2 separate regions of the Homo sapiens genome follow, and region 1 is linked to region 2. A link means that fine-mapping ties the variant in region 2 to the plasma level of a protein whose gene starts in the linked region. Region 2 holds a variant in brackets. A gene starts in the other region. All regions are shown on their forward strands.

Region 1 (16,928 bases), not on the chromosome of region 2:
AACACCTTCAGTCTTCCAGAAAAACACAAGTTAAATGATAGAAAAGCAAATAAAAATAAAAGGAATGCCTTATTTTGGTCAGATGCTCAGAGAGATCACTGTCTGGGATGTTTCAATGGAACCTAGGAAGTAGAAGGAGAAATGTACTTATCCTTTATTTTGTCATTTACATTTAGGCCTGCCCCTCACCGAGGGTTTCCAGTGGGAAGTAGAAGTCACTGCTTTCCATTGCCACACGTAGGGTGCCATGATTTATTTGAAGACAAATCTACCACACCATGCGGTTGTTAGGAGCATAGACCCAGGAGTTAGACTGGCTGGCTTGGGTCTTAACTCCTCCACCGGCTGACTCGTGGCCCTATCTACTCATCTATAAAGCAGGGATAATAATAATAATACCTACCTTCGAGAGTTAAGAGATTCAGCGAGTTAATATTTGGAATACTGTTGGCCAAAAATTCATTTTGCCACTCACGTTTGCTTAGTCAAAACTGTAAACATTGTCCAACAGGACATTTCTCTTCACAATTCCCAACTTTTGGTGGCCCACTAATGAAAATATTCTAAAAACAGCCTACACAGGAACATCCTCACAGCCAAATGAGGCAGCAAGGCAAAGCCTTTACCCGAATGATTCAAGGCAAACTACACTAGTGCTAGGATTATGTCAAAAGAGGACTTTGGTCTCTCAAACAGGTCCCACCTACACTTCCTCCTTCCATGGACACAATACCATTCAAGTGTGGGGTACCCTGGGTCGCAATGGTGCTGATGGGAAGCCATCCTTCATCACTGAAATTGCCCGAAACCACCAAGCCAGACACCTAGGTTTCCTCAAAAACACTACTTGGAAAAGAATTGAAATAGATTTCCAGAGGATTCTGTGGCATTTTATCTGAACTACCTGTAATAATTGGCCAACCGTCTGCGTGGAATTTTTGCCGTTTGTCAGGATTTCCCTCAGATACAAGGACTAAATTCAGACAGTTACTACAGCAATTATTTGAGAGACCAAGCACACCCTTTGCAACATAGATCAGAGGGTTATTATTATTATCTTTTGTTTTTTTTTTTTTTTTTTTTTTTTTTTTTTTACAAAAAAAGGAGTTTTGAAAAGAAGGCCTCGGTTCCCAAACTGTGGCTGCCCCTCACCCAATGGGCACCACCATGACCACCACTTGCTCAACAGTAGACCAGGGCACCTGCTTGCAGACGGGAACCAGGGCTGCTGGGCTTGCTCTGCAGGAACAGTGCCTCATTTTAATCTACCACACAACAGAAGACATGGGAATCCCGCCGCGGCCTGGATCTGCATCCAGCCCGGATAACGACAAAGGCAGCAAACATTGACTGAAAACAATTTGCTGCATGCACCGATAAGACTTGGTGGTGAAAAACTATCTTGCTGATTTCTCAGAACAACTCTATGGAGCAGATGCTATTATAATATACCTCTTAAAGATGAAATGAAAAATCAAACGATGAAGACCACAGAAATTAAGAGACTTGCCCAAGGTCACAATGCCAGGCTAATTTTCACTCCCTCTGAAACACAAATATCCTGATGATGAGACACCAAGTATCATTTAATCCACTACAGATCTTTCCAAAATGTTGAAAAGGTTTTTTCCCCCTACTTTGCAGCTGCTCTTTTTTTCAGATGCTGACATGACCTGCCCCGACCTGCCTGGAGGAAAAGGCTGCCTTGGTCTGGGAAGTTTTGTTTCTACTGCAAATGTATCTCTGTGTCTCACTATTTCTCCTCATTTCTGTGCTTCACCTTAGGAATCTTCCCTTTTTTAAATCAATCCAAATGCTATGGGTAGAATTGTGTCTCCCTCCCCCTCAAAAAGCATATGTTGGAGTCCTAACTTCCAAGCACCTCAGAATGTGACTTTATTTGGAGTCTTTACAGAGGTAACGAAGTTAAAATGAGGTTGTTAGAGTGGGCTCTAATCCACAATGACTGATGTCCTTCTAAGAAGAGATTTGGAGACAGGCTCATCCACAAAGAAAGAACACTGTGTGAATGTACAGACAGCCATCTACAAGCCAAGGAGAGAGGTGCACAGAAGATCCTTCCTTCACAGCTCTCAGGAGGAACCAACCCTACTGCCCTCTTGATTTTGGACTTCTGGTCACCAGAACTGAGATGGTAAATATCTGCTGTTTAAGCCTCCCGTTCTGTGGTATTTTGTTAAGGCAGCCCTAGCAAATGAAGACCCCATGGAACTTTTGTTTAGCCTGTGCTGCTGTCCCAGGACAGAGGTGGCCTCACAGGGGGCTCTGCTCAGTCATTAGACACCTAGGGACCCCCCGCATCCCAGCAGCCCACCCAAGGCTTCCTTGATTCTCCCACCAGGCTCCAAGCTCCCAAGGGGATTAACGGCATTCATTTATTTTTTTTTAGTTACATAATTAGGTTCTTCTTAAGAAATTTAGAACACCAATTTGTGAGGATAAATTCCATTCACCAGGGCACACACAGATTGCAGGTAGCCCTGGAGCTGAGGAATAGCTTTGAGTTTTGGTAAAATTTGCCAGTCCATGGTTTTCTGATCAGCCTTGCACTGCTTTGTAGTCTTACATTTCTCTTTTTCTGTCAAAGATCTCACCCTCCTACTGACTAGGCTTCCACAACTGCTTCTTAAAGTAGGCATTGGTAAGATGTTTTGGGTTTCTCACACTGCTGGTATCGATTTTTTTTTTTTTTTTGAGACAGTCTTGCTCTGATGCCCAGGCTGGAGTGCAATGACGCCATCTCAGCTCACTGCAACCTCCAGCTCCCAGGTTCAAGTGATTCTCATGCCTCAGCCTCTCAAGTAGCTGGGATTACAGGTGTGTGCCACCATACCCGGCTAATTTTTGTATTTTTAATGGAGACGGAGGTTTCGCCATGTTGGCCAGGTTGGTCTCGAACTCCTGGCCTCAAGTGATCCACCCACCTTGACCTCCCAGAGTGCTGGGATTATAGGTGTGAGCCACTGCACCCAGTCCTGATATCAATTTTTATGGAGGTGGTGATGACAAATTTCTGGTGTGTCCTTCACAGAGGAACTCCATGGAAGACCAGAGGTCCAGCCACAAGTAACAAGCTACTGCCCAGCTGCTCCAGGAAAACCACCCTCCTGCCTTGGTGGCACCAAGGGAGGATGAGCAGAATGGTCTCGAGGGCCGTGCTGGCTCCAAGTTTTCTCACATGCTGACTGCAGAGTTTCTTGCGATGGCTGGACAGCTTTTGAGGCACATCTCTGTTGGATAATATCAAGGCATTTTGTGAAGTTTAAATAGCCAGGCATCACCATTCTTGTCACCTCAACTGGGTTTGTAACGGTTGCGAGATTCTTTTCAATCTTGGGTTTAGCAGCTAAGTACCTCCTCTCGTACATGGCCTTTCTGGAATACATAGCAGATCAGGAATATCTGCCAATTCCTCCAATGAGGACAGGATTTTGGGCTTCCCCTTCTTGGGCTTTTTAGCTCTGAGGTTCCCCTTTTCACCTTGCCACTGGCAAAGCCTTGTTAGCTTCAGGTTTCTTCTCCTTAGTATCCGGCTTCTCAACTTTTTCACCCACCATCTTGCAAGATGGGAAGGTGATGTTTAGACGCTCTTGTCATTTACCCATTTATTTGAGTAAGGACAAGGAGTTTCTACGTCCCAGATCTCCAGATTTACAAGTCAACACATAAGCATTGATTTTTGTCCCCCGTGAAAAAAGCTAAGTGATAGACAAATCTTAGAGTCAGTCATCTCTTATTTATTTATTTTTTAAAAAGCATGAAGGGCTTTGAATTAAAATAATTCACCTAGCACTAAGGCTGAGCCATGAAGCTTCAAAGAACAAAGAAGTTGCAGAAGGAGAGAGCTACAGAATTTGTTTTCAAATATCCTAAGGTAGTGTGGGCAGGAAGGGATGTGACTGGAATTCATAACACCACCAGGACCAAACAGTGCCAAATATCCTGTGAGCCATTTATTTTTCCTCCTCACTGTATATTGCTAAGAGCGGCATAAATTATAAGGCAAGGCCAGATAGATATAAAGATCAGATGAAAATCTCGCCCAAACCATTTTTCATCGATTAATGTTCAGATCTGCCACGCCCATCTTTTTGGTCTGGCTCACAGATCTCTGGCACCAATTGCATCACTCAAGGTTTAGAGAACCGCAGAAGCATCTGACCAATTTGCACTTTTGACAAATTAAGGACCCAATTAAAGTGGCCATTAATAAGCTAGAAACAAGCAGACAGGTATAAATCTGGGCTTCTGCCTCACACTTCAAACAGATTACTCCACATGGGGAGGGAATGGGCAGCTGGATGATTTGTTTTTAGAGCAGAGAGGAAGACAGGGAAGAAGGAAGGAAAGGAGGGAGGGAGGGATGAACATACATACATAAACATAAGCCCAGCTTTCTGTCACTAAACTCTGTAATATAGATATGCCAATCTTTCAGTATATGAAAATCTGGATTTACACACATGCAAAATTAGAGGTGATGATTTGTTCTACCAATAGGTTCATGATAGGGAAGATGGGCTCACGGGAGGCTAAATGGTCCCCTGGAGAACTTAAAATGGTTTAGATTGATATAATCAATTATAATACACATTACTAGCATAATTATTCTTTTTTTAAAAAATGTTTGTCTCACTTTTTCTTTTTTTAAAAATTTTACTTTAAGTTCTGGGATACATGTGCAGAACATGCAGGTTTGTTATATAGGTATAGACGTGCCATGGTGGTTTGCTGCACCCATCAACCCGTCATTTAGGTTTTAGCCCCACATGCATTAGGGATTTGTCCTAATACTCTCCCTCCGCTTGCCTCCCACCCCAGGACAGGCCCCGATGTGTGATGTTCCCCTGTGTCATGTGTTCTCATTGTTAACTCCCCCTTATGAGTGAGAACATGCAGAGTTTGGTTTTCTGTTCCTGTGTTAGTTTGCTGAGAATGATGGTTCCCAGCTTCATCCATGTCCCTGAAAAGGACATGAAATCATTCTTTTTTATGGCTGCATAGTATTCCATGGTGTATATGTGCCACATTTTCTTAATCCAGTCTATCATTGATGGGCATTTTGGTTGGCTCCAAGTCTTTGCTATTGTAAATAGTGCTGCAATAAACACACGTGTACATGTGTCTTTATAGTAGAATGATTTATAATCCTTTGGGTATATACCCAGTAATGGGATTACTAGCATAATTATTCTTATTAAAGAAAAGAATAACAAGTTCCAAGAAATATTTGAGAGAGGTGTCATGTTGTTCCTGGTTGGCGTTTGTTCCCCCAGTGCTCCCCAAGACAGAGCAAGGGAAGGATCAGCTGGGGAGAAGAGGCCTCTCCTCCAAGTCTCCCAAAACATCCCAGCATTGAATGGAAGGGGGGCCAGAGCAGTCACAGGAAAGGGAGCCACTGACCTAGGGACAACAGTGACTGTCCCACCAGGGCACTTGCCTGATGTTGTAACCCATTTATACCTGAGGTTGCAATTTTTTGAATTTTTGCAATCAGACCTTGACGATGACCTTGTGCAGAAGGATATAAATAACTCCCACATGCTTAGTGTTCCAATAATGGAACACTAGGCATAAATGGGTTTTAAGCAGGTAGCCAGGAAGAATTTCAGCATTGACTTCCCTCACGTGTGCAGCTATATACCCGCAAAAACCCTAGAAGGTGGCAGGGGGAGACCCTTTCTCCCCCAGATCTAGCAGAACAATATCACAAGCATCTTCCCTGGACTAAAGAGGAGGACTGGAATCACTATTTCTCATAAAGGGTGGCTTGACTTTTTTTTGACAAAGTGTTTCTTTATGTATTACACAACATTTCTTTATGTAATATAAAGTTTACGGATGAGCATTTTGTCAAGATAATAAAGCAACACATCCTGGCCTTAGAAATTCAGTAGGAAGTAAATCTAAATTAGGTTCCATCCCATAGGATTTAGACACTGAAGGATCGAAAGAAAGAAAGAAAAGAGAAGAGAAGAGAAAGAAAAATACTCTAATACCAGTTCATTTGCAAAGTGACCCAAGGCAGGAATTTTAATGCCAAGAATGTGCAGTCATGCTTAAGTATGGCAGGTTCACTTTCCAATTTCTGTAATTAAATCGTAACTGACAACTGGGATGGGTAGGAGAGGAAGGGAAAATAAATTTAATTCTGCTTAATAAAAGGTGCCAGACCACGATGAAATCTCATTCATGAATTGTTTTTTTTTTTAATCATTGGAATTGTTTTAAAAAATAGCAAATGCTCAACAAATGCAAGCTAAGTTAAACACTTTGGACAACTTACTTGAACAACACAATCATATAATGTGGGTCCTGTTGTTATCCCACAGAGCAGGAAACTGATGCTTAGAGCGCTTGAGGAAGTGGTGTGAATGCAGGGGCCAAGCACCAAGCCACTCTGCTAGATGGCCTCTTGGTGAGGAAGAGAACTCATCTTTAGCTTAGATGTTAAGGGAACAAATCTACCATTTCCATTCTCCTCATCCGTCACTTAAGAACAAGTCCTAATATTTTTAAGTAATAAGTATATGGTCAAAAATGAATAACTCAGAAATATCATGAATGAGAGAATTCCATGTCAGTCTTACAGAATATTTGAAGAGAAATTTTCTTTGTACCACATACACAAAAATCAAGCATAGCTTAGCTTGTTACGTATTGCTTAAGTGAAAAAAAAAAATCAACTTTAGTGTAGTTAATACCTCAGCCACTAGGGGAATATCTGCTTTTATTAAGTTAATATTTCTTGTACCTAAGTAAACATTCCTTCTTCTTCCTGTCTGTTCTTACAAGTAACAAATAAGTAGATAGGTATTCCCTTAAAATTCCGTGTGTCTTTCTTTGGATAATCAACGAGCAGTTACAGAACAACTAGCCCCATTCTAAATCTGATACCAGAGATTTCTGAATCAATGCAATTTTATGTCAAATCTATACATCTCTACCCATGTGAACCAGCTTCTGTTCAAGCACTGTTTGTCGGCCTCCAGAGCAAGGAGCATGACAATGCCCAGCTTTCCTCCTCAGAGCTGTTGCTGTTAATGTGGAAGAAAAATGAGGGACACATCCTTCTAGACATTTTTTTTGACAATGGAACGAGAAGTAGAGTTTCTGCCAGGATATATTTTGCACATCATCCAGATTTTTTTTTTTTTTTTTTTTGAGACAGGTTCTCACTCTGTCACCCAGGCTGGAATGCAGTGGCACAATCATGACTCACTGCAGCCTCAACCTCCTGGGCTTAAGGAATCCTCTCACCTCAGCCTCCCAAGTCGCTAGGACTATAGGTAAGTGCCATCATGCCTGGCTAATTTTTAATTTTCTTGTACAGTCTGGATCTCCCTATGTTCAGACCTTCCAGGCTGGTCTTGAACTCCAGCACAAGCGGTTCTCCCTCCTCAGCTTCTCAAAGTACTGGAATTACAGGAATGACCCACCACACCCAGCCATATTTTGCCTTTTGTATGAGAAAGGAGGAGGTACCGGAAATGTAACCTTCACCTTGAACAGTGATGACTTTTTTCAGGGGTCATCTGGGTGAGTTTCAAAGGATGCCCCACCTGCACCTCACCCAAAGACTTATATGGGAACCATGAGAGGGGCTTTAAAATGCTATATATATAGCAAAACCAATAGTTTTATTATTCTCATATTTTTGAATCCTACTTCCTGAACATAGAATTAGTTCCTCTCTTGCATAATGGTAGATGCTATTTTTATGGCATCACTGATTTTTTTCTTATTTTTCTAAAGAATGAAACAAAAATTTCTCAATTCATCCTGAGTCACCTACTTGAACTTTCTCATGGAACAGAGCGCTAACATTCACTGGATGTGTACCATGCACCAAGCAACATAGTAAGCTCTTTACCTACTTATCTAATTTACTTCTCACAACTACCTAGTTAGGCAAGTCTCTAGTGGCAGCTCTCTGTTCTGTGCCCACAGGTTGGAAAATGATGAAACTGGCCTAACCCATTTGGCCAACCCTGAAGACTCATATGGCCCCGTAACTCACTAGAAACCCTCTCTCAGTAAAGGACTCGCTTTGTTTCCTGGTGAGAGCTGAATAGCATTCATCTTCCTTTCATCTAAACATGTGTTTTTTCTTCTTCTTTCAAATAATGCCTCATTTGCTATTTAAGCTTTTGAAGAAAAATAAAGACAAGAAAATATTAGAGAAGGCACTGTCCTTCCAATCTGCTGCTTGGCATCCCCTACCACAGAGGGCATCTGTCCCTATAAAGTCACCTGTCATAAAAGACCAAGACAGAGGCAAATATCGGACCATTGAAGATACCAATAAGCTGTGTGTGGCTTAACATAAAAATAACCACACATTAGCAGGTGGTAACTCCACCACCAAGGCCAAAAGCAGCCCAGGAAGCTGATTAACACGCACATCAGCCTCTTCTCTCACTTGTGAAGGCAGGTCTGTCTGTCTTCAATTCTTATTCTAGTACTTTTACAAAAAGACTTTTCTTCTTCTCTGCATGTTCCCTCCCTTGCTGTGTCCTAGACAATTCTAAGAATCCCAAATTGAATCTCATTCTCTGAGAAGTAGATAGAATGACATGCTTTTTGAGAATGTGATTCCAACCCCAATTTCTAGAATACAAGAGCCCTAGAGCATCTTAAGACCAGGGACTTTTATATACTCATCACAAAGAATGGATGTGATACTTGTTTAAACATCAGAGAACTCAATTTCCCCTTTAATTCCACTGCCAAGCTTGATTTCACTGCAGCCACTTCATCAAATGAATTTATAAAATATGGACCAATGAAAAGAAACTACAAAAAAAAATTGTGCTCCATAAGCAAAACTTGTCATGCCAGCAACAAATTTCCCTTCTCCGCATCTGCATAGCCCACCTCAAGGAACAAATTTGTCAAGCAACTTTTTAAGTGCCCTCCCCCTCCATCTACTTTGTCCTTCTGGAATAAATACGTTACTGACACAGTTAAGACATGTCAGCCCTTACCTTTCTGTAAGTCACAAAATGGTGGTTAAAAGTCCTTTTCTTCCATTCAGTGGTCGAGACTCTTGCTACGACTGGAGTATCTCCCCCGGGAACACTCCCTCTTCCCTGCTTTGCCTCCCAGCCTCTCCCTTCAGCTTCAGTCAAACATTAACCATTAACATTTTTTATTGCTCTTCGAGAGCCACTGGGTATCATAAAAAGTGTCATTACTTTTACTCCAGGAAAGAAATGACTTTGTATCAAAAGAAGTTTAACTTACATCTAATCCATCTCAAAACAGGTTGCTACATTTTTCAATGTAGATGAGTCAATGAAAAGACAAGAAGTTAGAGTGGAAAAGTTTTTGTGTATCCAACTATCTCTAGAGTGTGAGGTTCATGACATCAAAGACTTTCCATATTTTGTACCCCCAACACTTAGCACAGGAGACTTGATCAGCAAATATTTATGTAGATTCCATCTCAAACACAAAAGACGGAGCAGGGGCGCCATGTCTGAGCAATGACACAGTTCATTGATAACCAGCCACATGAGATATCATAAATGACTCAGAAGACATGAGGAAAGACACAATATGGCTGTGCCTGCTTTTGAAATCCAAGGGTCCCTTCCAAAGTCTGCAAGAAACAACCGATAGCAAATTTCCCCCAAACACAAACCAAGTCCTTTTTTCCCCCCCACAATTCAGGGAATGGATTTACCTAGGAACAACTTATTTTTCCCCAATCAAAATGAGGTTTTTGATTAACCAATAAAAGCCAATGCCCCCAGATTTCTCAAGTCAAGGCTTCTTTTAGACCAATTCCTGATTTCCACACTTTGGTCACTCTGGGAATCCACACTGAAGGTGAGCATCAATGTCATGTCTGTGTCTGGTGTGTTACACTTGGCCCTGTTTCTGTGGACCTTCTCATGTTCATTTCTTGGCTTCTCCTGAGCTGAGGTTGTGTTTTCCATTCCTCTCCAGGTGTGCATCTGACAGAGGGAAAGCAAGAGAGCCCAGCCCACTCTCTAGAAGGGCTCCCTCCTTTCCAGATTTCATGAGAAGGTTTCATGAGTGCTCTAAGCCACTGTGGGAATAGACCTCATTTATCCTGAGGACCCTGCAAGTGAAACCATCTAGTTGCATGCCAGCTGTTAACATCCTTGGTGGACTGGTGGGTTCAGCAAAGGCCCTTCTTGCTTTGTCCCACAGCCAGCATCACTCATTTAGAAGAATGAGGTTATTGAGGCTAAGCACTTCTCACATTCTTCACACCTCTGCCCTCCCATTAGCTGAATAAAGTGTGCTTGTTCTACAAAATCAAATCGCTTCCACTTGCCACATGTTTCAGTTCCTGGAATCAAGGGCAAGCATCTCATCACACAGCATTGTTCATAAAGAAGTTTGGGTCTTCTTTGAAAATTTTAAAATAATAAAGTGCTTTTAAATTTATGAGTTTTTTTTTTTCAAAAATAAAGTGCATATGTATCATTTATAGTCATTGTTTTTCAGCAACAATAACAATGATCGTGACATGTTGGTATATCAATTAAAATTCTGTTTTCTCATTTAGCATGTCTGCAAAGTAGATTCCAGTTTATAGACAGAAAATGGGGACACAGAGAGGTTTTATTTCTTGTCTAAGTCACACAGCCTTTGACTACAGAATCGGGACTGCAACCCTGTTCTGATTCAAATCCCATCCTATTCACTACAGCTATAGACTCTGCCAGATTTTTTTCCTTCCAGCTTTATGCGAGTAAAAAAAAAAAAAAAAAAAAAAAAAAAAGTCCAAGGGCAGAAATCCCTGCATGAGCCCATTCCTGTTGGAAGATGGCCAAGTTCCGAAATGGGGTTCCTCTGTACATCACTTGCTATCTCTAGCCCCCAGCTTCCAGCTCAAAGAATTAGGTTAATTAAACACTGAAAATGCCTAAACCACCCATCAGAGAAATTAACAGGTGATTATTGCATTTCTGAATTACAGAAGCTATTTCTGTACTGTGGGATACCAGGTTAACAAGATTCTGAGAGCTGTTCATATATTCCTTACATGGTTTAGACATCCTTCCAGATTAAATCCAAATGTTAAGAATGTGCACGTTTCAGGTAGCCACCACTGCATTTTAGGAACTCATTTTCATGAAAAGTGAGACATTGCTGGTTCAATAGACTTGCTAATAATAGGAATAAGGAAAATGTAATTGATAAATATTACTGATTTAATTTTCCAAAGCAAAGGAGGTATGATTTATAGGATGAAAACAACTGAAGGCCAGGCGCAGTGGCTCACACCTGTAATCCCAGCACTTTGGGAGGCTGAGGCAGGCAGATTACCTGAGGTCAGGAGTTTGAGACCAGCCTGTCCAACATGGTGAAACCTCATCTCTACTAAAAATGCAAAAATTAGCCAGGTGTGGTGGCAGGTGCCTGTAATCCCAGCTACTCAGGAGGCTGACTCAGGAGAATCATTTGAACCTGGGAGGTGGAGGTTGCATTGAGCCGAGATTGCACCACTGCACTCCAGCCTAGCCGACAGAGCAAGACTGCATCTCAAAAAAAAAAAAAAAAAAGAAAACAAAACTGAACAAGTGAAAGGACTTGGGCTAATGCTTTCAACTCACAGCTTCATGGTGGTGAAAACATTTCAACGCTTTTGTCTATAATGTTTTAAGCATTCCTCCAATATTATCCCTAGAAAATACAAATGTCCATAAATAAGTAATTAATTTATGGACATTTGTAAGAAAGTCTAGATAGCCTCCCAGACAAAAAAGTTATGAAAACTTGGAATTATTCCTAAAAGTCAAAGCATGTTACATTTCTAATATTTATATTCTTTTTTATTTTATTTTATTTATTTTTTGAGATGGAGTCTTGATGTCCCCAAGGCTGGAGTGCAATGGCACAATCTCAGCTCACTGCAACCTCCGCCTCCCAGTTTCAAGTGATTCTCCTGCCTCAGCCTCCCATGTAGCTGGGATTACAGGTGCCCACCACCACACCCGGCTAATTTTTTATATTTTTAGTAGAGACGGGGTTTAACCATGTTGGCCAGTCTGGTCTTGAGCTCCTGACCTCAGGTGATCTGCCTGCCTTGGCCTCCCAAAGTGCTGGGATTACAGGCATGAGCCACTGCTCCTGGCCTATTTTTATTCTTTAAAACTCAAAATGAAATCTATGAGTGGTAAATTTCTCAATTTTTCAAGTACTTGCATTTTATGTTCTTTATGTGTTACATACTACACATTCAGAATATTTTATCATGAGTCCATCAACACACAACCCTCACCTAACAGAAGTGTAAAATAATATTTTAATTACTTAATATCTGTCTTGCTCTGTTAACTTGATGATGGCAGAAACTTTGTCTTCAATTAGTACTCAATAAGTACTTCTTAGGACTCAACTCCATTCAGTTATTTAATTCAATAATTCTAAATAGTCATGATTACCTGCAGGCTCAACCAAGGCCAATAGGAACCCAGAAAAGCAAATAATTTTGAACCCCCTGAAACCTAGAGTTCACAGTTTTTGTTCCACATTTATTTAGTGGAATGAAGTGAAACTAATTTTCTGCTAGTCATTGTTTTAGGCTGAAGCAGAATCTTTCTTAACTACTTTTGCTGGCCAGGACAGAGTCCATTTTCTGATAAATTTAAGCAAAACAGGTCTTACTTCCATGTAGCTCTTACTTTTTTGGAGACAGGGTCTCGCTCTGTCACAGGCTGACAGGCTGGAGTGCAGTGGTGCGATCTCGGCTCACCGCAGCCTTGGCCCTTCAGGCTCAAGCCATCCTCCCACCTAAGCCTCCCAAGTAGCTGGGACTACAGGCACACACCACCATATCCCATTTTTTTTGTAGAGATGGGGTTTCATCCATCCAGGCTGGACTCCAACTCCTGGGGTCTAAGATCTGCCCACCTCAGCCTCTTAAAATGCTGGGAATACAAGTGTAAGGCACTGCGCCTGGCCTATACTTACTTCTGAGTTTGGGTTTGGGGTTTTTGTTTGGAGGCTTCTCTGTTGTTGAGTTTTTTTTTTTTGGCAGTTTTCCAAACCAGAACACTTGAGAGAATTATCACAAGATTTAAAACTTAGATAACAAAATGAATCACTAGTTCTAAGTAAGAAACACTGAATCATACATAATGCTGTTTAAAAATCTTAGCTGACAGCCACCTTGCGATATTCTGAAAAATATTTAAGGAAGATAGTTTGAGGTTAGTAAAGATTTTCTTCCCCACTATCTACTCTGACAGAAGTGGACCCACTTTGTACTTTGTTTATTCCAGGAAGATTTTTAACTTCATCTATAGATGCTGGCTCCAAGCAACTGCCCAGCAGGCGGGGCCCTCAATCTGGCTCCAGCTACGCATGCCATGAAGTGGCTGGAGAATCTCATGAATGGGATGGCTAGTAAGTATTCACATCATCAGTTGTACATTGGACAAATGCCTTCCAGGTCTTTCCAAACTGAAGTTCACTAAAACTGGGGCTTACACTATGAAATCCTGGTTCAGGGTATGTCCCTGGGTCCCTTGCTCTGTTGCCCAAGCTAGACTGCAGCATGTAATCATGGCTCACTGCAGCCTCGACTTCCTGGGCGTAAGTAATCCTCCTGCCTCAGCCTCCAAAGTAGCTAGGACTACAGGCAAGTGCCACCACACCAGCTAATTTTAAAATTTTTTGTAGAGATAGGTTCTATGTTGCTCAGGCTGCTCTTGAACTCCTGAGCTCAAGTGATTCTCCTGCCTCGGTCTCCCAAAGTGCTGGTATTACAGATGTGAGCCACCATGCCTGGCTGGCACTCTGGATTTCTGATGCAGGTGATTACATAGGCCCTTCTGAGAAACACTAGCTTAAGGAATCATTGCTTTATCCTCCAGTAAATATTCTTCAGCAAAGCCTATTCTGAATTGAGATTAATTACCCCACCATGTAGAACCCATTTCTGCAGGAATGTCTGAGATAATGATGCAGTCGGTCTGATGTTGAACATGCAAGCTGGATCTGGTAGACATGAGCATGCTCATCTTCCCTCAGACATTTTTTTCTCAGACAGCTAAGCTTTTTATTTGATCTTGGATTTTCTTTAAATTCCAAGAAATGACCATCATTCTTATTGGTTTTCTGAGACCTATCTCTGTCTCTTATCAGATTTCACCTAACAAGCTTTTGCTCCCATCCAGCTCATGCTCAGATCACAGTGTCTGGCTTCCATCTTCACTGCTCCACTGAAACCACCCTCACCGAGGTTGCCAACAACCTCCTCATGATAATCAGATGGACGCTTTTCAGTCTGCACCTCACCTGACCTCTCACAACTTTCAACACCATGGCGAGCTCTCCTCAAATTTCCCTTTACCCCGGCTTCCTTGCCAATACTCTGATTTTCCTTCCACCTCTTGAGCTAGTCCCTTGCAGTCCTACTTGTGACTCATCCAACTCCTTGGGCCCAATCCCAGGTTATCCTGTCCTGTCACTCACTCTGTGGAGGTCAACTCTGCTCCCATCTACTTGCCAACATCTCGAGTCTCTCTCTAGACCAGATCTCTCCTCTGGTCAAAGCTCTGGTTTTCTATATCCAACTGACTATTCCACAACTTCGCCAAGGTGTCCCATGTGCACAACAAACTCCACACAGCCATAGTGAACTGTACTGTTTTAATTCTCCAAAACATACGCCTCCTAGAACACTACCCCTTCATGTTAGCCCTGGTGGTCATCACCACTTAGCCAGACAGTGTGCAGTGACTGCCTAGGAAGTACTGTCATGGGGTCAAGTAGGAGACCAGCATGCATGTGAGCTTTGCTTGGAAGGACTCAGACTTGGACACTAAGGCTTATTAAATGGTCCCCCTTCTGTGCCTGTGGGTCTCTCATTAGACACCAAAACAGGATTGCCTCTGGAAATTCTGCCCTTAAGAGAAGTATTTCCTGGGAAAGAATACTCTTTTTAGTAAATTGTGAAATTGATCTTCACATGCAAAACAATGAAACTGGACCCTGACCTCACACCATTCAGAAAAATTAAAATATATCAAAGACATAAATTATAAGGGCTGAAACTATAAAATTCTAAGAAGAAAGCAGGGGTAAATCTTTATGGCCTTGGATTAGGAAATGATGTCTTAGCTATGACACCAAAAGCACAAATAACAATAGAAAAAAAAACAAATTGGACTGGACTTAATCAAAATTAAGAACTTTTGTGATTCAAAAAACACCGTTAAGAAAGTGAAAGACAATTCATAGAAGGAAAGAAAATATTTGTAAGTCGCGTATCTGACAAATGAACTGTATCTAGAAGATATAAACAACTCTTACAGCAACCCAATCAAAAAATAAAGGATCTGAATAGAAATTTTTTAAAAGATATACAAATAGCTAAAAAGCACATGAAAAGATGCTCATCCTTAGGCATAAGCAAAATGCAAATCAAAACCACAATAAGATGGCATTTCATACCCACCAGGGTGTTTCATACCCACCAGGACAGCTATAATAAAAAAGAGATAATACCCAGTGTTGAAGATGATGTGGAGAAATTAGAATCCTCATATGCTTCTGGTGGGAATGTAAAATAACACAACCACTTTGGTAAACAGTCTGGGAGTTTTAACAAAAACTTAAATATAGAGTTACCATTTGACTTAGCAATTTCACTCCTAGGTATATAGCCAAGAGAAATAAAAACATCACACAAAAACTTGTACACAAATATTCATAGCAGCATTATTCATAATAGCCAAGAGATAGAAACAACCCAAATATTCATCAACTGATGGATAAAATGTGGTATCCATATGATAGAATATTTGTCTATCCATATAATAGAATATTCATATAAAAAGATATGAAATACTGATACTACAAGACTAAACCTTGAAAACATTATGCTTAGTGAAAAAAGTCAGACAAAAAAAGCCTAATATTATATAATCCACTCACATGAAATGTCTGGAATAGGCAAGTCCATAGACAGAGAAAGAAGATTTCGGAGTTGCCTGCAGTTGGGGGGCAGAGGGGGAATTTAGAGCTGAGAGCTAAAAGACATGGGGCTGCTTTTGAAAGTGATGAACATTTTCTAAGTTTTATTGTGGTGGTGGTTGCACAACTCTGAGAATACACTAAAAACTACTGAATTGTGCACTTTAAGTTGGTAAGCTGTATGATATGTCAATTATATCTCAATAAAGCTGTTCTTAAAAAAAGTATTCCCTGCAACTAATGCATATTCACTGCAAAATAATGAAATTGAACTGACATAAATATACAAAACATAGGCTAAACATTTTCAGTTACCTCGGTCTAGGCCCTTCAGATCATTTTGTTCTATTATCGGAAATGTCTTACGGTTTCCAAAATCATTTATTTTCCTTTAAGTATACGAGGTTTTTTTTTTTTTTTTAACTAATTTTACCTATTATTTGACCTCTTTTGTTTTTTGTGTTTTTAAAATGTGAATAAGAACATTTCAGTACACAAAGATTATCTTTGCCCTGGATAAAGTAGAAAATGACAATGTGGGCATAATGGCCCCTCAGCCCCTCTGATAGTGTCTCAGCCCAGGCAGTTCAGCCCTAGATAAACTTGACTCAACTGCCTGCCTGAACGAAGACTATTTTCTTTCTACATGACTAAACCTAGTAACTCAGGAGACAAGGAGGCCAAATTCTCCTCCCTTTAGTTTTCCCACTCAGGATTACATTGGGCCTGGTCTCAGGAACAATCCAGGAGTTTCTGGAAAAGCCATGTTATCTTCAAACTAGAATTTTCCAATAGCTACAGGAGGAAACACAGGAAATGAAAGCTCACATCTGCAATCTGTGTAATTCCCTTGCCTTGGGTGGTCCACAGGAGCAGCCCACAGTGCAGTGGAGGAGGAGGGGAGAACAGAAGCCCTGCTTGGGAGAGACCATCTGGCTCTATCA
Region 2 (9,096 bases):
TCACCATGTTAGCCAGGATGGTCTCGATCTCCTGACCTCGTGATCCGCCCGCCTCGGCCTCCCAGAGTGCTGGGATTACAGGCGTGAGCCACCGCACCCGGCTGAATAGGCTTGATTCTGACAGGCTGAATTTGAGGGGGTGATGGACTTCTAGTAGGGGATGATTTTTAAAAAGTTTTCTGTTTTATTTTTAGAGACAGGGTCTCCCTCTGTCACCCGGGCTGAGTGCACTGGTGCAGTCGAAGCTTGCTGCAGCCGCGACCTGCCCGTAAGTGGGCCTGTAGCAGGGGTGATTCATGTGGGTCTGGAGCACAGGCGGAAGGCCAGGCTGGGAGAAGAGTTGGAGAACCATCAGTTCTTGGGTATTGGCTGAACTCATGGAGTTAGACAAGAATCTTTGTTTTGTTTTGTTTTGAGACAGGGTCTCTGTTGCCAGGGCTGGAGTGCAGTGGCTTGCCCTGACTAGAGAAAAATCTTTTTCTGTTAGGAGCGAAGTTTTATAATTGTAGGCTTTTTAGTCTGGTATCTCAGGGTGTAAGAAGGGCCTGTTTAGGAATGTGGCTGTGGCATATCCAGCTGTATCTTTAATTATTGTTACCTTTTTAAAAAATAAAAAATTTTTTGTAGGGATGGCGGGGGGCGGGGGGGGGTCTCACTATTGCCCAGGTTGGTCTCGAACTCCTGGCCTCAAGTGTTCTCTGCCTCGGCCTCAAAAGTGCTTGGATTACAGGCATGAGCCACTGTGCCTGGCCTTTAATCTTTGTTACTTGTTCTTACTGCCAGAGAGTGGGACCGTGGCCGTGAGCGCCGTAGTCGGGGTGAATATCGGGACTATGACCGGAATCGGCGAGAGCGCTTCTCGCCACCTCGCCACGAACTCAGCCCGCCACAGAAGCGCATGAGGAGAGACTGGTGAGATGGAGCGGTTTCCCTCTCCTCCCCTTTGCCTCAGTTCCACCTGGGCCTCCCCTTTCTCCCCTCACCTGTGCCTAAATCTTTGTCATTTCCTTTTCTCAACTTCCCATCACCCATCGTTACTTTGTCCCTTGAAACCCTTGTCTGGGAGACCATGCTGTGTGTACCCCCGTCTGTCCATCCTCCATGCTCTGGGGAGGTGACTCCCTTCTCTGCTTTACTTTTGTGTCCCCCACCTTCAGGGATGAGCACAGCTCTGACCCATACCACAGTGGCTATGAGATGCCCTATGCTGGGGGGGGTGGGGGCCCAACTTATGGCCCCCCTCAGCCCTGGGGCCACCCTGACGTCCACATCATGCAGCACCATGTCCTGCCTATCCAGGCCAGGTAAGGGTGGGGCTTCTCAGAAGAGGGTTGGTAGGCCTGGGGGATGGATGGGGTTGCTGAAGGCCATGGCTGAAGCCAGGGAGCGGGTCAGGCACACAGAGGCATGTCCCTGGGGTAGGGGTGGTAGCTGTTGGGGTTTGGGGTGATGTCCATGGTGGACAAAGTAAAGGGGCCCCAGCTACTTTGGCCCCTGTAGCCTCCCACCGTTCCCCAAAAACCAAGCCTTCCTGACCGGGGTCCCCTCCAGGCTGGGCAGCATTGCAGAGATTGACCTGGGTGTGCCGCCGCCCGTGATGAAGACCTTCAAGGAGTTTCTCCTCTCCCTGGATGACTCGGTGGATGAGACGGAGGCCGTCAAGCGCTATAATGACTACAAGCTGGATTTCCGGAGGCAACAGATGCAGGATTTCTTCCTGGCGCACAAAGATGAGGAGTGGTGAGTGCCCCTACTTCCCTGGACCTCTGCCCTGGCATGTCCCCCTGGCCCCGCTGGTGGAGCCACAGCCCTGTCCTCTTCCCAGTTTTCCCTGTCCAGAACTTTCTGGGGGCGGGGGTCGGGAAGTATGACAGCATTGGCTGATGGGGTCTCCCCCTCACTTCAGCAACTGCCACGGCCCCCGCCCCGCCCTGTCTCCTGTCCTGCTGTCCTCAGAGAGTGGGACACCTCCAGGCAGCAGGCCAGAGCCACTTGGCCCCTTGGGGCAGCAGACAGACTGCTTCCCACTTGTTGGTGTTGGGTCATTGTCATCCCTGATCACCAGGACCCTGTGTGGCTGTGGCGTCCTCCTAAAGCGACGAGTGAATCCAGACAAGAAAAGCAAAGATCTCGGTCGTTTGACAGAAAAAGAATTTTAATTTTTTTTTCCTTTTGTGGATGTTTTAATTTTAATCAACCATCTTTTCCCCCCTTCCTGCTCCTCCTCCTCCTCATCCTCTTTCTGCTCCTCCTCCTTGAAAAGAGCCAGAACTGGGAACTACACCCGCTCATCGACGGAGCTCGGAGCAAACCCACCTCCACCCCCACCATACCCAGCCCATACATGAGCCCCTGGGCTGAGCTGCGCGGCCCCGGCCAGGCAGACAGGCCAGGGCACTGCTGTGCACAATGCAGCGGTTTAGCTGAATGTGATTGCTCAGGCAGCTAGCCAGTCAGGCCCCACTGCGGAGTCCCGCGTGGGCATCTCGGCCGGGCGCCCAGCCAGGAGCCAGCCGGTGGCCCACCAGCCAGCATGGGCCCTGGGCGCCGCTAGTTAAATCTTGAGCTCTGTTTGACCAAGCGGCCAAGGTAAAGATCCTGGAGGTGATGCCTGCGGCTTTCCTTTCCTCTTCTGCCCCACTCGTGGTTCTGTTCTGTCTTCGCTGTCCCCTCTCTCGAATTGCTCTGTGTCTTTGTCCTAATCTCTCAGCACCTTCATTCTTCTCTGTTTCTGTTCTTGCTCCCTGCCTAACACCACCTTCTTCCCTGTTGGTTTTTTTAGTTTCTCTCTCTGATCTTTAGTTTTTCCCTTTGTTTTCGGTTTCTGGGACTTTCTCACACTCTCCCCTTTCCTCCCTTTCCCCTTTTCCTCATACTCCTCATTTCTTCTGTTTTCCCTCTGAGGTCCTATTTGAAATGTTTTATTTTTCTTCTCCCTAACCTTCCAGCCCTCTCCTCTCTCTCCCCCTGTGGGCAGGACCTGAGGCTCTAAAGGGCACTCCAGTGTCTCCCTTCGGTCTTTCCTGTCCCTTCACCGTCTTGCTTATCTTCCCACGGGTGGAGAAAGGTGCCCTGCCTCTGGGCTTTTGCTATCTGGCCCTCTGTCTTCCACCTCGGGGTGGAGGGAGTTGGCGGGAGCAGTTTTTGAATGACTGCAGTTTGGGGTTGGTGAGGAGAGGGAGGTTCTTCAGGGCCTGCTATTTCCTGAGCCTTCCTCTCTGAAGCTTTGGGAAATGACACCTTTTTACTACGTTAGTGTTTCCCAGAGATTTAAAGTGGTAAATCTGCCTCTCCTACCCTGGCGTCCCCCTGTAGTCATTGGTCTTCCCAAATCCAGAGCTCTTAGTTCCTGGTTCTCCCCCAAATCTTCACAGAACACAACTTCTGGTTCCTTTTGGGGTGTTGGGTGGTTCTAGCGCACCCCTATCCCTTAATCTCTCTATTTTGATGACCTTTTGTGGTTGTGAGAGGAAGGGGGATATGCCCTGTCTTTCCTGGGCCCCTTCCCACATCCTGGCCTTGGCTTCCAATAACTGTTTTGTCTTTCCCTCCCCCGCTTCGTTCCCAGGTTTCGGTCTAAGTACCACCCAGATGAGGTGGGGAAGCGTCGGCAGGAGGCCCGGGGGGCCCTGCAAAACCGACTGAGGGTCTTCCTGTCCCTCATGGAGACTGGCTGGTTTGATAACCTTCTCCTGGACATAGACAAAGCTGATGCCATTGTCAAGATGCTGGATGCAGGTGTGCGGATTTGGAGGGGTGGCAGGCATCTGGGCCCCATGGGGGTGGGGGTGTCTGGGGATCAGGTAGAAGCCGGTTGACAGGAGCCAGGGCCCTGGGGTCATGACCTCTGTTCCCTTTGTTGGTAGCCGTGATTAAGATGGAAGGAGGCACGGAGAATGATCTTCGCATCCTGGAGCAGGAGGAGGAGGAGGAGCAGGCAGGAAAGCCTGGGGAGCCCAGCAAGAAAGAAGAAGGACGGGCTGGAGCAGGCCTAGGGGACGGGGAGCGCAAAACCAACGACAAGGATGAGAAGAAGGAAGACGGCAAGCAGGTCCGAGCCCTGGGTCTCCTAGTGTTGTCCCTGGCAGCCTGGGGGAGGGGGGCGGGTAGGGGTCCATAGGAGCTAGAAGTAGGGGGCTGGGGAAAATGAACCTGTGGCCTCAGCTGTGGGGGTGGGGGCCCTCTGATAAAGGTGGGAGGGGAGGTTTGACATCCCCAGTGGTTGTCTCTTACCATAGGCTGAGAATGACAGTTCTAATGATGACAAAACAAAGAAGTCGGAGGGTGATGGGGACAAGGAAGAGAAGAAAGAAGACTCCGAGAAGGAAGCCAAAAAGGTGAGGTGTCTGTGGCCTGGGGTCAGAGTGTTGGGGCTGGGGTTCTGGCACGCTGACTTGTCCCCTCTGCTGTGGCTCACACAGAGTAGCAAGAAGCGGAACCGGAAGCACAGTGGTGACGACAGCTTTGACGAGGGCAGCGTGTCAGAGTCTGAGTCGGAGTCAGAGAGCGGCCAGGCTGAGGAGGAGAAGGAGGAGGCCGGTAGGGTTTCTTTTCTGCTTTAAAGTGCGTTCTCCTAATGCGGGTGGGGAGGTGAGAG[G/A]TTGGCGACATTGACGGGAGGGTGGGTGGCTTTTAGGGGAAAGCTTCTGTATCCTCCCCACCACAATCAGTAATAAAAATGCACCAACTCCTTCCTACCCCCCTTCCTGCCTAGAAGAAGCGCTCAAGGAGAAGGAGAAGCCCAAGGAAGAAGAATGGGAGAAGCCCAAGGACGCCGCGGGGCTGGAGTGCAAGCCGCGGCCGCTGCATAAGACCTGCTCCCTCTTCATGCGCAACATCGCGCCCAACATCTCCCGGGCCGAGATCATCTCCGTGAGTGGGGACCCGTGGAGTCAGGGCAGGGCTGATGGAGAAGTGGAGGGTAGAGGGAAGGCAGTGGGGCCCTGCCTGTGACAGATGCCCCCGTTTCACCTGCTAGGGAGGCCCCTTCCCCAGGTTCCATGGCCTCCGAGGACTAGTCCTGATAGCGCCATTGGCTTTCAGGTGCTGGTGTTCTGAAGCCCTTTAGTGGTTTTTCCCTGCCCAAGGATGGGAAGAGTGATAAGGCAGTTAGTCCCTAGGGTTCTGAGGGCAGTGGGGGATTGGAGGAAGAAGCGAATGAATCCTTGAGTCACTGTGGGGCTGCTTTTCTGCTTCTTGCAGCTTTGTAAAAGGTACCCAGGCTTTATGCGGGTGGCGCTCTCAGAGCCCCAGCCAGAGAGGAGGTGAGTAACTCGGTGCGTTGGAGGGAAAAGTGCAGGGGAACGTTAATGGCCAACACCAACTCCCTCGCTTGACTATGCTAACATTTTCTTTCTTGTGTAGGTTTTTCCGTCGTGGCTGGGTGACCTTCGACCGCAGTGTTAACATTAAAGAGATCTGTTGGAACCTGCAGAACATCCGTGTGAGTGCTGGGGGTGGGACTGTGGGGAAGAGGAAGGGAGACTCTGTGCCACACGGGACCTCTGTGTGACTTTGTTCATCTGATAGTTTGGTTGTTCTGCACACTCTTTGACCGTTTTGTCTGGCTACGTTGTCTCTGGGCAAGGCTCTAGGGCGTTAGCATGGACGGAACCTATGTGGTCCCCGTCCCCAGGGAGCTCGCAGTCTGATCAATCGCTGGTGCTCAAGAGGGAAGGGTCTTAGAGCTGCTGTTTCTCTGGCAAGCGGGGTAAGTGGGGTAAGCTGCTGATGATGTCTGCCCTCCAGCTCCGGGAGTGTGAGCTGAGCCCTGGTGTGAACAGGGACCTGACCCGGCGCGTTCGCAACATCAACGGCATCACCCAGCACAAGCAGATTGTGCGCAACGACATCAAGCTGGCGGCCAAGCTGATCCACACGCTGGATGACAGGACACAGCTTTGGGCCTCAGAACCAGGGACGCCTCCCCTGCCCACGGTCAGTGACTCCCCAAAGGACTTTGTCAGAAGCAACTGGTAGTGCCTCTGCTGTGGGCACCTCTGACCTTACCTATCTGTAGCCTTGAACCCTTGCACCCACTCGCCTGCTCACTCATTTGCCCCTTCGTGTGTGGGTAGCAGCACCTCCAGATTCCAGCAGAACTGGGGGGATGCTAGTGATCATTTGTGGCTGGGGTGGAACAAAAGCTAAAATAAAGACAAATCTCAAGGGGGCAAAAGGTGCCATTTATGTCCGGTGAACTCCTGTCCCCTCGCTGCTCTTTCACTTGTGGAAAGTCTCAGGTTACCTCCTCTGAAGGTCTTCTCTGCCTTACTTGCTTCTCTTCCTCCCATCAGAGCCTGCCCTCGCAAAACCCGATCTTGAAGAATATCACCGACTACCTGATCGAGGAAGTAAGCGCCGAGGAGGAGGAGCTGCTGGGGAGCAGCGGGGGCGCTCCTCCTGAGGAGCCTCCTAAGGAAGGGAACCCGGCAGAGATCAACGTGGAGCGGGATGAGAAGTTGATTAAGGTGCCAGTGGCAGCGCGGGGCACGTGGGGGCTCGGGCGGTGAGGGCAGGAGCTGAACGCTCGCATTCACTTCCCTTAGGTCTTGGACAAGCTCCTCCTTTACCTGCGCATCGTGCATTCCTTGGATTATTACAACACCTGTGAGTACCCCAACGAGGACGAGATGCCCAATCGCTGTGGGATCATCCACGTTCGGGGGCCCATGCCACCCAACCGCATCAGTCACGGGGAAGGTGAGCTCCAGGTTCCCCTTTGTTCCCGGCTGCCCCTGGCCTTGGTCCTCCAGCCCCTTGCCACCATCCTTCCTTCTGGCTCCCTTGCCAACCTTCCTTCCTCTGTTCCCAAACCACAGTGCTGGAGTGGCAGAAGACTTTTGAGGAGAAGCTCACGCCGTTGCTGAGTGTGCGGGAGTCACTCTCAGAGGAAGAGGCCCAGAAGATGGGGCGCAAAGACCCAGAGCAGGAAGTGGAGAAGTTCGTCACCTCCAACACGCAGGAACTGGGCAAGGATAAGTGGCTGTGTCCTCTCAGTGGCAAGAAATTCAAGGTGTGGGATGTTGGAGAATGGCCGTGCTACGGTGGTGGGAGGTGGGGTTGAGACAGGAAGCCCCCTGGGCAGGGGTGGGGGAACTGCTTACTGCACTGGCAGGCGGGAGCTGGGAATCCTTCCAGCTCGGGCCTGGGAGCGAGGCAACCCTTATGTGGCTGTCCTGACCCCTCTCCTCTCTCCACCCAGGGTCCTGAGTTTGTGCGCAAACATATCTTCAACAAGCATGCAGAGAAAATTGAGGAAGTGAAAAAGGAAGTCGCGTTTTTTAACAACTTCCTCACTGATGCTAAGCGCCCAGCTCTGCCTGAGATCAAGCCAGCCCAGCCACCTGGCCCCGCCCAGAGTAAGATACGATCCATGAAGGTCGCATGTGCCCTCTTCCTTGACTACCCAGGGACTCCTGTTTCTCTTTAACGTGTCACCCCGAGAAGTTTCTGCCCCATCCTCAGGCCATAGCCCTAGAAGTCAATTGTACCCGTATCCCCCTCCCCGCCCCCGCAGTAATTCATGTCCCTGTCCGTGTTGTACTCCCCCCAGGTTTGACCCCAGGACTCCCCTACCCACACCAGACTCCCCAGGGCCTGATGCCCTATGGTCAGCCCCGGCCCCCGATCTTGGGCTATGGAGGTAAGTACAGGAGGGAGATGAAGGGGCTTGGTGAGTGTGTGGCTTTGGGAGAAGAAAACAGAGGATGGAATTGAGGACATAGTTTTGCAACTCAACACTGATCTCTGTCATAGCTGGTGCTGTCCGCCCTGCAGTCCCCACAGGAGGCCCTCCATACCCCCATGCCCCGTATGGTGCTGGTCGAGGGAACTATGATGCCTTCCGAGGCCAGGGAGGTTATCCTGGGAAACCTCGCAACAGGTGAGGAGGGCAGACGCCCAAGCTTTGTTGCCGCCTGCAGACTCCCTTTTGGGAGCCCTCAGCTCTCATCCTGTACCTCTCACCTCACAGGATGGTTCGTGGAGACCCAAGGGCCATTGTGGAATATCGGGACCTGGATGCCCCAGACGATGTTGATTTCTTTTGAGCCGTCCCCCGTTCCTCAGTCCTGTATCATCCATACTTGTACTACCTTGTCCTATGAAGCTCTGAGAATTTTTTGTACGATCAGCCTTACTGCTAATAAAAGCACTTCCACAGGGCTCCTGACTCTCGTGTGTTACATAACTCCTCCATCCTTCCAGAGTAACTCCTGAGGTGTTGCTCAGCCCTGCCACTTTTATTATTGATGTCAAAAGCGCCAGGCTTTGCAGGGACACCAGTGGGAGGTACATAGGTGCGTGTCTGGGACCCGAGAATCTCAGTTCTGTAACTTCGTCCTCAGTCCAAGGTGCGCTGCTGCTGTTGGGAGCTAAGGCTGGTCAAGCACAGGTTGTAGAAGGAGTTGGGGTCAAAGGCTGCACTCACCTCTTGCCAGCCCACCCACCCAGCAGCCTGTAGTTCACTGGGGCTTTTTGGAGTGCCCCAGTAGTGAGGGTCCAATACCAGGACATAGGCTTCCGTGCCTGACCCTACGCAGACTCCCAGCAAGGCCTTGGACCTGGCATCTGCGTCCCCCCCAACCATGACTGGGCCCCCACCCCCTGCGAAGTGCGAGTAAAGCCTCTCCAGCTCCCCGTGCAGCCCCACTCCCCGGGGTACGTGGCAGAGGCGTCCCTGGGGCCCTCCGAAGTGAGCGAGGCAGAGGCTGGCCTCCACGCAGCCGATCCAGTCCCGGGAGCCCCGGAAGCCGGGGGGCTTGTCGCCCATGTCCTCCAGGGCCGCCTGTACGGCGGCCAGTCCAGGTACGCCCGCGGGCTGGCCCTCTGGCCACGAGCACAGCGTCTGCAGAGTGCGGTAGCCGCAGCCCCAGCCGCGGTCGTCCAGGCCGTCGCAGCCGTAGTGGTAGTAGAGGTAGTGGCCCGAGAGCAGCGCCAGGCGGACAGGGCCGCGGCTCGGCGGGGACAGGCCCACGTGGACGTCCCTCAGCGGCTCCAGGGCGGTGGGCGGGAGCGGAGGTCCCAGGCCAGGCACAGCGTCCTCCTAGCGGCGCGGAGCGACCTCAGGCTCCAACACTTCCTTTCGGCTCCGGGTCT

Direction of the effects. Positions count from the first base shown, and alleles are read on the strand shown. Strength reflects both the effect of a copy and how common the allele is.
As copies of A replace G in region 2, the plasma level of the protein whose gene starts at base 9,081 in region 1 goes up (strong association).

Evidence for each region. PIP is the chance, under the fine-mapping model, that this variant and not a neighbour inherited with it causes the effect. Protein levels are from antibody-based Olink assays in UK Biobank. Linkage for the fine-mapping came from a reference panel and not from the study's own genotypes, which makes the PIPs less certain.
Region 1: CDH17 starts here. The variant in region 2 is fine-mapped to the plasma level of the CDH17 protein (UK Biobank, PIP above 0.99).

What each region holds. Positions count from the first base shown.
Region 1 is chr8:94,199,475-94,216,402 of GRCh38, forward strand. It overlaps CDH17 (cadherin 17), which reads right to left and starts at 9,081. Exons shown (of 18, transcript NM_004063.4): 1 at 9,009-9,081. It also overlaps the pseudogene RPL6P23. RefSeq lists an enhancer at 6,608-7,807.
Region 2 is chr7:100,880,502-100,889,597 of GRCh38, forward strand. It overlaps SRRT (serrate, RNA effector molecule), which reads left to right. Exons shown (of 20, transcript NM_015908.6): 3 at 784-912; 4 at 1,158-1,304; 5 at 1,552-1,740; 6 at 3,569-3,738; 7 at 3,867-4,051; 8 at 4,239-4,337; 9 at 4,422-4,539; 10 at 4,712-4,869; 11 at 5,200-5,261; 12 at 5,362-5,440; 13 at 5,746-5,934; 14 at 6,294-6,467; 15 at 6,546-6,699; 16 at 6,819-7,012; 4 more. The coding sequence ends at 8,048. It overlaps UFSP1 (UFM1 specific peptidase 1), which reads right to left. Exons shown (of 1, transcript NM_001430944.2): 1 at 8,220-9,096. The coding sequence starts at 8,998. The coding sequence ends at 8,342. Among named protein-coding and RNA genes, the nearest start is that of UFSP1, 4.7 kb to the right of the region's middle. RefSeq lists enhancers at 442-1,279, 5,303-6,036. The variant G/A (reference allele first, on the strand shown) is at 4,598.